Linked DNA regions of Homo sapiens. The protein of the gene in region 2 binds, or shares a complex with, the protein of the main gene of each other region. Each region holds a gene or a part of one and is shown on either strand. Other genes may lie near its edges. The genes, in order: REV1 and POLK.

Region 1 (7,297 bases), on a different chromosome or scaffold from region 2:
AATCCTATAATCTGTAAAAGGAACTAAAATTTCAAACCAGATACTAATTTATAATGACTGGCCCAGAAAAACAGTATGCTACTGTGTGTGCATTTGTTTTTGATGACAAGAAAAGTATTAAAAAACAAAATACAATGAACCAATGTACTTAAGATGTGAAATAATCTCACTGAAAGTTTACCACTGTTAATTACAACAGCTCTATGTCAAAATTAAAAAATCATTATGATGCAAGCTTCTAGAAATTAACAATTACTCTTATCAAACCAATTTCATTCTTACAGGAGTTTAAGCACTGGATAGATGTTATATTAACACAGTTCAAAACTTCACCAACTGATAAGGTCTACGTGAGGAATGAATGCTCAGAATCCCAACCATCTTACTGTTTAAATTCTCTGAAAATTTTCAGTCAGCCACAATTATATCTAATTGTTTTAAAAATATTTTAATAAATTAGCTTTCTATGTTATGCTTACTGTAACTTACATGATTTGACATACTTAGAGACTTTTATGAGAACTTCATATTGACCAGAAATACCAATAATAGCATAAGAGCAAAATGATCAAGCATGACTGTTTCTTAAGAAGACAATTTTAATAAGTATCTACCTGTGTCAGTTACAACAAGTGCAGACCTGCCTGTTTTCATTTTTTTTAACTTTTCCCTTCCTGGAAAGATACCATTACTTTGTCTTTGTAGGGTATTGACAAACTCAGTCAATTCACACTTCCACATTGATATGTGATGCAGTCTTGAATGAGAATAGAAGTTTGAAATAAAATTGCAGTCTGAAGGTTTGGATGGCACTGAAGGTGCTGCCTTGCTAAACGTAGATACTGAAGAAGTGCTTTTTGTGCTTGAAGGCCCCTGAACAGTGGAGTGGTGAGCACCATTGATTTTAGTGTTACTGTGCAAAGGTGATAATGAGAAAGAATTAGTTCTGTGTGGATTCCGCAAAGCATCTGTGTTTCTGGTGCTTTGCTGCAACTGCTGCAGAGTGCAGTCTCTGAAATCAGTGCTGCTCTTCTCAGCCTTATCCTCCTCCTGGGAAAAGGCTGGAGAAAGCCTGCTGGCAACACTGTTGACCATGGGCACCAAGCAATCCTGTGTCTTTAAGGCACCATTAGAGCTAGGAGTGTGTCCATTAAAAATGGCAGTGCTCCCTCTGGGATGCGGAATTCCATTCTGTTTCCTTCCCGGAGAGGTCTGCTCCAGATCCACAAAACTAAAATCATTATTTTCATCTTCTTCATTCCAACTGTTCATGCCATTGACTTTGACTTCATTTTCCGTTTCAATCTTCTTAACGATGTGATTTCTAAAGCAGGAAAAAATTTTTGAGTTAATAATATCTGACTTTTAGGTTAAAACAATTTTTTCATTTCATCATTTTCTTAGTGGTACACAGTTTGGTATTTCCCCCTTTAAAAACAGAAAATTCTTATATTGAATATTGACAATGAAAAAAAAAAACCCTGAAACTTAAACCACAAACTTTATATTCTGATTTGACAAAAGATCATTCTTTGCAAAAGTAGCAAGATAACTAGAAAAATTCTAGAATATTAACAGCCCTTTAGGTGTTTTTTGTTTGTTTTTTATTTTCACTTCAGATAGTCCCAAAGAAGAAATAAAATAGAACATTTCTCATGGCTGAAGAAAAACCCAAAAAACTTTTCAGTTATTTTTCCCATAAAAAATTAATTGGAATCTATAAGCTGTAAATACCCAGTTCTGAAGCACAGTGCTTGGCATTTACTACATGGTCAATAAATATCTGCTGAATTAATATACTACAAATAACTTTCATAAAAATGGATTTAAAAACCTTACTTGAATTCTTATTCCTAGTTTTAGTTTTTATGAAAGGTACTATTCAACACATTAAATCTAATACGAAACCAGATGGTTTCAGTAGGAAAAAAACTGACTATATTGATTAACCTATTAATGAGCTAACTGTTGCACAAATAGACAAAAAGTAAAGCCATGTCAATGTGTGGGGGTAATTCAGTAAAATTTACACCTAGAAAAATAAGGACGCTTGCCTTACTGAGAAGGGAAATTGCACTTCATTTCTAAGAAATGCATATTTAGATGCCAGGGTGGTACAAGGCAATCTGGACCAAGTTTCCTGATGACAGCTTTATAAATGCAGAACCCATGACAAATGTTATGCTAAAGTCACATCCTGGCTCCTCTAGACGTTTGTTTAGAAATGCATTCACGAGAATCATCTAAGTAACAAAAACAAAAACCTGAATTACAAAGCAGTAATTCATTCTACTTAGGAATGTCCAAATGTCCATAGCATTAATTCAATTACAGCGCAGGCTCCAGATGAAGGGCTGCCCTACAGAGTAGTAAGCCACAGGTGAAATTACCACAGTATTATCAGGTTCCACCTAAAGCCCCTCACCCTAATACCAACTTGGTTTATTAGTAATGAGAGCCTGACTACACAGAAAAGTCCCACAAGCTGGATGATCACCCATTTCTGGGTTAGCTCAGGCTCTGGCTAAACATCATATGGAATGTGACAGGCAACTGTGAGTAGATGCCATGCTCACAGATGATCATGCCAGTGATGGGGAAAAAGACAAAGTAGATATGATTAAAAGAAGAAAAAAAGAAAACCTAATTTGTCACATGCAGAGAAAGTTCAGCCTCTTGAGATAAACAGAATGCAAGGGAGCAAGAAGTCACAGATGAGCATTTCAAAGAAATGTACAAAATGTACTGAATATACCCCCCAAAAAAACCCCAGAAAACAACAAAAGTGATGTACGTCAGAAAGTCTTACATCTAGTTTTGTGTCAAAAACATTCAGACCCTTTACATGCATTATAGCAACACATGCAACAGAAAGCCATATATTGGCAGGAAAATACATTGTTAACATACATTCTTGCTGTACTATAGTTTCTCAGCCTAGACAAATGGACATTTGCAAAGTAGCTGTACTGGAAATATCACGGGTAGAGATACATTTTTTAGGCAATGGCATAAATGTATTAAGAAGTAAAATCTAAAAGGTAATTTCTTCCTAAAGTGTCACAAAGAAGATTTTGAAAAAACATATCTATTTTCTACTTTTATTAATGTGGGTAAGAAAAGAAAGCTAAAGCTACGTATTCTGTGAAAAGGTTTTCTGGTATTATTTGCTATATACCTTGATAGCACATTAAAAAAAATTAAAAGCTACAGGTAACATGAAAAATATTTGAATATGCTTGTGAGTACAAGTTAAATTAACAAATGACAACAAAAATTACAGAAGGCAGTGATACTGGATCCTCTCAGATTAATTAGACTCCTGGTGTTTTCGAAAAAAAATATATCCAACTCCCAAAGCAAGCAATTTAATAAATAAAGAGAAGGCTAACCATAATGAACCACCTGATATACAAGGTAAGGCAACCCACCAATTAATTGTGAAACAATTTATCCAGGGTTGCAATTAAAAGCTTAAATTAAAAAAAAAAAGCAGCCACATGGAATAGTCTAGATTCACTTTCAATTCTATAACCAAGGGTCACCAACTAAACTTCCATTTATATATTTACATATTTAGAATGTTATGAATTTTGAATTTTTCAAAAATAACCCAGAAATATTAACATTTTCATTGTCTTTCTATGCATGGAACACAACAAAAATATAGCTGGTGCAGTTAGTTCCATTTTTGAGAAAGCAATACAGCAAATTACTTGTGAGGAAATAATTACTTTCATAAAAATCCATGAAAAAACTTATTAACAATTAAGATCCACTAGTTTAAGGTGAGAAACCAGTATGACTGTAAAAACTTACTTACATTTATGAAATTATCATTATAAAAATAATTCATTTTTAGATAAGACACTCATACACACATATTTCAACATGTTTATTATAAGTGAATGGCCAGGGTTTGTATCTGCTTCTGTCTGACTGTAACAGAGCAGGGGCCATGCTCACTGCTAAAAACCAGCTTTGTGGCCAGGCGTGGTGGCTCATGCCTGTAACCCCAGCACTTTGGGAGGCCAAGGAAGGTAGATCACAAGGCCAGGAGTTCGAGACCAGCCTGGCCAAGATGGTGAAACCCCGTCTCTACTAAAAATACAAAAATTAGCCAGGCGTGGTGGCACACGCCTGTAAGCCTAGCTACTCGGGAGGCTGAGGCAGGAGAATCACTTGAACCTGGGAGGCAGAGGTTGCAATGAGCCGAGATCATACCATTGCACTCCAGCCTCGGCAACAAGAGCAAAACTCCATCTCAAAAAAAAAAAAAAAAAAAAAAAACCAACCAGCTTTGCAGTAATCCCCAACTAGACAAACTTACACCCTGTTGTTGAGCTGTTTGGCTATATTGCTTGGACCTGGCAGAGGATCCTCAGGTCTGCATACAGGATTAAAGCTGAGACCTTTCTGCACACTGGACTGCTTGGTGTACAGCTGATATGGAATGTAGGAGAGGAGTCGTCCAGCTTTGATGCTGAAACAAAAAGCAACACCAATTTAGAGTTCCATACTTGGTGACAATGAGCTTCATGAAAAATATTCAATGTCCTTAAAGATACAGTATTTCACCAACAACAGGTCATCTGTTTTCCTAGTTTATTCCTTCTTGCTCGGTTTTAGTGGTCCTAATACAATATGATCTTAGAGTGGGGAAAAACTGCAAGCACAGAGCTGAACTAGTCAATATTTTAAACCTCATGACTTTAGTATTTACCACCCTGTCAACAGTTAACAGAGAATCATCAAGACTTCATCAAAATCTCATCTATTAAGGTTTTCCAAGATAAATAAACTGAATAAGGATGCTCAATTTCCAAATTCATGTCAGAAACTGTAAAATAAAAATATAGGACAAAATAAAGAATCTCAACTTCAAGAGTAATAATTTATACTATTTTTATGTATACAAGAATGGTTAAGAGCCAAGGCCATTTGAAGATATGAACTCTACAAGGGCCAAAACTACCATGTACATCCTCACAGCATATCACACAACACCACTCAAATCCAGGGGAACACCAGTGTTCTAACGCTAGGTGGTACTAGCACTGTAACTGAAGTTCCCAAATGTCTGCTTCCTTTTGTACTTCAGAACTAAAACTAATTTGATTGCAGTATCTAAAACTGACATTTTCTTGCTAATAAACTGAGTTATATATGGCTACTCTACCTTTAAAATTATCATTTCACTTCAAATTTAAAAATAACCAATCAATATACTTATGCTATCATCCAAATTTCAAAACAAGCTACTTTAATATTAGAAAATATTTCAAAACAACCTCTGGATTTTAAACCTAAAATATATACCAAGGAATCATCCCTCAGTTATTTAGAAAAAGACTGATAAATAACATGATAAAAATATGTTTCTTATTGTCTCATAAATCCAAGACTTGACATTTTCATTTTCTTAAATGGTGTCACACAAAACTTTTTAAAAAATAATCATTTAAGAAATGACTGAATTGGCTTACAGAATACTAATTAAAAATAACTGAGTCAACAACTTGGAATACAGGAAAACATACTAACAGATTCTAAAAACGGAACTATATATGATACAGAGTATGTCCTTTATATAATTATGTCAATATATATTTAACAATTCTACCTAAAGTACCTTAACCTATATCAAATGCTATAACTATTAAATTATGATGGTAAAGAACATACTATACTAGTCGCAAGACATGTAACCAAATGGATTTATGACCAGGCTAAATGTTTTACCAAAATTCAGGTTACATTCAAAATACATTCAAAATTTCAGGTTACATTCAAATATTAGAATCGAAACCCTAAAATTCGACTATTTTTTACTTTATTCTTCCTCAAACCAACTTTTCTTCCTTTTTTTTTTTTGAGACGGAGTCTCGCTCTGTCGCCCAGGCTGGAGTGCAGTGGCGCGATCTCGGCTTCACGCCATTCTCCTGCCTCAGCTTCCCGAGTAGCTGGGACTACAGGCGCCTGCCACCACGCCCGGCTAATTTTTTGTATTTTTTTAGTAGAGACGGGGTTTCACCGTGTTAGCCAGGATGGTCTCGATCTCCTGACCTCGTGATCCACCCGCCTCTGCCTCCCAAAGTGCTGGGATTACAGGTGTGAGCCACCGCGCCCAGCCCTTTTCTTCCTTTAATAGTTGGTCTCAATTGCCTAACTATAAATCTTTGTTCTGTGGTATTATGTATATCAAACTCACTTGCTTCCCCCACCAAAAGAAGTACAGCTACTTAATACCTGAAATAAAATCCTAACCTTAGCTTTCCATCCTTTATCATAGATAGCTATAACTAAGAGACAAGTAGAGAGTGAAACTACACCCACTGTGCCAGCTGCACATCTCAGGTAAAACCAAAAGTGCAAGGAACAAAACGCCCTATGATCATTCTCGCTTTTCCTGCCCTACTGACAGCATGCTGGAGTGATGCAGACTCTACAGGTACTCTCTATGGTCAGCACTGATCATATACAAGGGTGTCAGGCCTTATCCAGCTCCTAACAAGAGCCATGTGGCCACCCACAGAATTCTTAGGCTTACATAAGTCAGTCCATGGAGACTGCTACAAAATTAGACAGCCAATTTAAATACTGCAAGTCTCAAATCAGATATCCTCAGAGATACTCAATAAAAAGAATTAAAGCCCAATGCACTACAGTAATGTTAGTGAAGTAATGTCAGTTATAATTTGAAGCCTAAACCACTATCTATCAGTTGTATACTCCTAACTACCCCTGCTTGCCCATTTATCTATCTATAGATATATAGACAGAAACATTATCTGAAAGCATATTTGTATAAGACCTTTTTAAAAATCTCTCTGGGATTAATTTCTCACATTTACTATTTCCCCTCTTGTTCTAAGCGCAAAGGAACTGTACTGACATTTTCTACTATTCTTTCAAAACCAAAAGGAGAGGATAATAAAAAAATCCATCTTTATCCAAAAGATAATACTACACGGTTTCCTTATACACTGAGTTTTTTCATGTACATTGAAACTATATTCTGATATATACATGAAAGAGTTTACATTCTATACAACGAATCAAAACATAGTCATAGCAAGTGAAATATTCATCTATTTTGGGAAGTCTTACTCTTGCTTTGTCCTACAGCCTCTGCGTTTAGGAACAAAAAAAAAAAACACAAGGAATGGCAAAAAAAACTCATGAGAGATAAAATTGCAATCAACTTTTATTTAAATGAGTTGCATAAGCACTCTAATATTTAAACACTGAATGTAATTAGAAACCAAAGTTTTGACTCATATGTAAGCACATGACA
Region 2 (4,898 bases):
GGAACTGCCAATTTTACTTCTCAAATCTCTTAATTACATCTGCTTCTCCATTTTTATTTCCATTGCCATCATTGCTTGTCACTGAATTTATTGTAATAACTTCTTCATAAGAATTTATTGTAATACCTTCTTCATAAGAATTTGTTGTTAGATGGATTTATTGTCTGTTGCTACATTTCAGGCACAGAATTAAGCACCTTTTGCACAGCCTCACTTAATTCTGAGGTATGGTGTATTCTATTATTAGCCCCGTTTGATAGAAAAGGATTCTGAGGCTTGAAGACGTTGGTGGAAGAAACAGAACTTGCCCCTAACGAGCATGACTTCTAAGAATGTGTTGTCAAGGGCGTGACTCACTCACCTTGCTCTACAGCAGGGGGTCACTTTGCTCCATCCCCAGGCCAAATCCCGCTGCTGCCTGTTATTGTAAATAAAATTTGTTTTAACACATTAAAAAAAAAAATTCCTGCAAAATCTACAAGCCCCAATGAACTCCCAGCTCTACTCTACCACTTCTTTGTATAATTTTGAGAAATGTCAAGGTTGAATTTATAACTAACACTATAGGAACTTCAATATTAAATCATTTCTAAATGGGCTTCCAACATTTTCTTTTGAATAAAGTAAGACTTGATTTCTCATTTGAAGACCATGAATTTTAATCTTTCCTGGCGGATTCTTTTGAAAAGTGAAATAATACAGAAGCAAGTCAAATTCTGACCCCCCAAATAAACTTCAAATAAGAAAGGTAATCAGGTTTTCATTTATTTATTCTTCTTACAAATTTACAAAAGATGTATCATTTTAATGTAAATTATGTAATATCAATGTTCATTTCAAACTTGTCAGTTTTTCCCTTCAAATTATTGTGCACCAAATTTGAGGCATTAAATTCAAAACAATGTTTCCTAATCAATGAAAAAACAAACATGACAAAATATTATTTATTTTATCAGAACACCGCCCATAACCTCAAACTTTCCTCTTTTAAAAAAGGGAAATGGGCCTAATGTTTGTAATAGAGATATGATAAAAACAATAGCAGGTAAGTTGAATTGAGTATTATGCAGAAATATCAGACAATGTACTAATATGGAAAGTATAATATGTAAATGGAAAAACAGGGCACCAAATTATATGTATATGTAGCATGTTTACAAGTAAAATTCTAAAAATCAAAAGAAAATACCCACACAAAAGAAGGAATAATAGTGAAAACAGCAGCAGATCAATGGAAAGCATACAGCCAAGTACAGAAAAATCTCCCAGTCTGGGTAACAAAGTGAGACCCCCTCTCTACAAAAATTAGCCAGGCATGGTGGTGCATGCCTGTAGTCCCAGCTACTTGGGAGGCTGAGGTGGGAGGATGGCTTCAGCCTGGGAGGCAGAGGTTGCAATGAGCCAAGATTGTGCCACTGTGTGCCAGTCTGCGTGATAGAGCCAGACCCTATCTCAAAAAAAAAATTTTTTTTTAATATAAATAAAAAATAATTTTAAAAAAAGATCTGAATTGTGTTATCCAAGTTTGAAACTGCTTTCAAATTCTAAACCAAGAAATTTACTTTTAAAAAAATCCTCTTATCAATGACAGGAGAAAATGCATCATCATTTTATGCTATATAGCCTTATAATAGTATGTGGTACTTATCTTACTCTAACAGATGAGACAAAAACTCCAAAGCAGTGCATTATGTGAAACTTAGCCATAGCTGGACTTTATTTCCCTGACAGCTTGGGCTAAATAAGAAGCTATGAAGTATACTGTGGGAGGTATTTTCTTTTTCACTCTGTTTCAAATATCAGGTTAGTTCTCAAGCAGAATATTAATTCTAAGCGTGCTAATACATAAAAGCTTGCCCACATGATCTGGCCCTACTCATCTCTCTGATCTTGGGCCCTACAATTCTTCTCCATTCTTCATCCACTGTTTCCTGGTGGAGAGCCATCAGCTTCTATTTCCTCCCTTTGCCTAGAACTTCTCTCCCCCACCTCCACTTCCGAATTTTTAAAATAGTTTTGATCCTTCGTATCATTAAGGTTTCAGGTTAAATGTCACTTCCTCAGAGGAGCCTTCTCGGATCATCTTATTCTAAAAGTGTCCCCTACCTTCATGTTCCATTCCCTTATGCTGTTGTCTCTTTCCTTTGTAACACTTACCACTGAAATGTCTATTTGTTTAGTGTCGGTTTCCACAACTAGAATGTAAACTTCATAAATACAGTGATTTTTAAAACTTTGTTGGGCCAGGCGTGGTGTCTCATGCCTATAATCCCAGCAATTTGAGAGGCCGAAGTGGGAGGATGGCTTGAGGCCAGGAGTTTGAGGCCAACCTGGGCAACTTAGTGAGACTCCAGTCTCCACAAAAAATTTAAAAATTAGCTGGTGGTGGTGGGGCAGACCTGTAGTCTTAGCTACTTGGGAAGCTGAGATGGGAGTATGGCCTGAGCCACGGAGGTCAAGGCTGCAGCAAGCTGTTATCATGTCACTGCATTCCAACCTGGGTGACAGAGCAAGACTCTGTCTCAAAAAAAAAAAAAATTAATTAAGTTTCTTACTGCATCTCCAGTGGCTAAAACAGTACCCGACCTGCAATAAGTATTTGTCAAATAAATATGGAATGCAATTTAGCCATGGGAACAGTAACTTGTCTTTGAGTCCTGAAAGCTTTAAGTTTTTCCCCTAAAGGTCTAGACTAAAAAAATATGTTCAATTCTGAAGTAAACCTTTAAAACCAGGTCCTGTTCAAGGATTCCATATTTTTAAAAACATCTTCCTAGATTTCTCTTTGCCCTCCTCTACCAGACGATTTCTCCCTAGACTCCCACTTTGTATATTCATCTATTATAGCCCTCCCTACATTGAATAGAAACTGTCCCTGGGGTGGCTCTCCATTTTTTGAGGACAAACATGTCTTAATAATCTTTATGTCCTTTATCAGCTAGGATTCAGCTATAATTAATAGGAAAACCCAAGTAACTATGGCTTAAACAATTTTTTAATTTGTTTCTTGTGAAAGTCTCAAAGTGTGCAGGCCAGTGCTGATATGTCTCTGTTTTACAAAGCCCCAAGAATCAGCCCCTGCAGCCCACTACTCTACCATCCCCCTGTGCAACCCTTATGTTCAGGTGTAAACGGCAGCATCTGCTTCCAGGCAGCAGGATGGAACAGAGAAATAGAAAGAAGAGGCAAACAGAATGCTACAGCTGCAAGAAAGGAAGGTTCCCAGAAGCAACCACACACAGTACTTCCTTTTTTTTTTTTTTTTTTTGAGACAAGGTCTCGCTTTGTCACCCAGGTTGGAGTGCAGTGGTGCAATCTCAGCTCACTGCAACCTCCGTCTCCCGGGTTCAAGCGATTCTCTTGCCTCAGCCTCCTGAGTAGCTGGGATCACAAGTGTGTGCCACCACGCCCAGCTACTTTTTTGTATTTTGAGTAGAGACGGGGTTTCACCATCTTGGCCAGGCTGGTCTCGAACTCCTGACCTCAGGTGATCCACCCGCCTTGGCCTCCCAAAGTGCTGAGATTACAGGCGTGAGACACCGCACCCGGCCAGTACTTCCTTTTATATCCCATTAGTCAAAACTCAGTCACATGGCTACCCCTAGCTGGGAGGGTGTGAGCTTCAAGGATGGGAGATACATTGTAGTCATCAATTCTGTAACACCTATTTTTCACATTATCACATCTTTTTAATTGAGATACTAAGTTGTCTGCCTGAATTGAAGTTGAGTTCTTCCATAGAGGATTTGCATATGCTTCTGCCAGTCACTAGGGGCAATACTAACCTCACTTTAATTACATTTTCTGCTTGAGCTCTTTAGGATGATACCATTTGTGTGAATTCAGATTACAAGCCTACATGTGTACTGGTTTATGGTTCAAATTCTCACTGGCAGTCCCTCCTTCCAACCAGTGCCAAGGCTGAGCATGCAAATTGCTTTGCTGTGGGGAAAAGCAAGAGAGATCAGATTGTTACTGTGTCTGTGTAGAAAGAAGTAGACATAGGAGACTCCATTTTGTTATGTACTAAGAAAAATTCTTCTGCCTTGAGATTCTGTGACCTTACCCCCAACCCCGTGCTCTCTGAAACATGTGCTGTGTCAACTCAGAGTTGAATGGATTAAGGGCGGTGCAGGATGTGCTTTGTTAAACAGATGCTTGAAGGCAGCATGCTCCTTAAGAGTCATCACCACTCCCTAATCTCAAGTACCCAGGGACACAAAAACTGCGGAAGGCCGCAGGGACCTCTGCCTAGGAAAGCCAGGTATTGTCCAAGGTTTCTCCCCATGTGATAGTCTGAAATATGGCCTCGTGGGAAGGGAAAGACCTGACCGTCCCCCAGCCCGACACCCGTAAAGGGTCTGTGCTGAGGAGGATTAGTAAAAGAGGAAGGAATGCCTCTTGCAGTTGAGACAAGAGGAAGGCATCTGTCTCCTGCCTGTCCCTGGGCAATGGAATGTCTCGGTATAAAACCCGATTGTATGCTCCATCTACTGAGATAGGGAAAAACCGCCTTAGGGCTGGAGGTGGGACCTGCGGGCAGCAATACTGCTTTGTAAAGCACTGAGATGTTTATGTGTATGCATATCTAAAAGCACAGCACTTAATCCTTTACATTGTCTATGATGCCAAGACCTTTGTTCACGTGTTTGTCTGCTGACCCTCTCCCCACAATTGTCTTGTGACCCTGACACATCCCCCTCTTTGAGAAACACCCACAGATGATCAATAAATACTAAGGGAACTCAGAGGCTGGCGGGATCCTCCATATGCTGAACGCTGGTTCCCCGGTTCCCCTTATTTCTTTCTCTATACTTTGTCTCTGTGTCTTTTTCTTTTCCAAATCTCTCGTCCCACCTTACGAGAAACACCCACAGGTGTGTAGGGGCAACCCACCC

The links.
Region 1: the proteins of POLK (region 2) and REV1 are in contact, whole or in part, in an NMR structure (PDB 2LSI), measured with the Homo sapiens proteins. Residues at the interface, in NP_001374042.1 of Homo sapiens: Lys564, Lys565, Ser566, Phe567, Phe568, Asp569, Lys571, Arg572, Arg575; in NP_057400.1 of Homo sapiens: Asn1158, Leu1159, Ala1160, Gly1161, Ala1162, Asp1167, Leu1171, Leu1172, Glu1174, Trp1175, Thr1178, Ile1179, Met1183, Glu1185, Asp1186, Gln1189, Val1190.

Annotation. Positions count from the first base shown.
Region 1 is NC_000002.12:99,437,987-99,445,283, forward strand, and holds part of REV1 (DNA repair protein REV1), read right to left. Parts: intron 4,484-7,297; coding exon 4,331-4,483; intron 1,325-4,330; coding exon 615-1,324; intron 1-614. UniProt on the Homo sapiens protein: Deoxycytidyl transferase involved in DNA repair. Transfers a dCMP residue from dCTP to the 3'-end of a DNA primer in a template-dependent reaction.
Region 2 is NC_000005.10:75,605,838-75,610,735, reverse strand, and holds the end of POLK (DNA polymerase kappa), read right to left. Parts: 3' UTR 745-4,898; downstream 1-744. UniProt on the Homo sapiens protein: DNA polymerase specifically involved in DNA repair. Plays an important role in translesion synthesis, where the normal high-fidelity DNA polymerases cannot proceed and DNA synthesis stalls.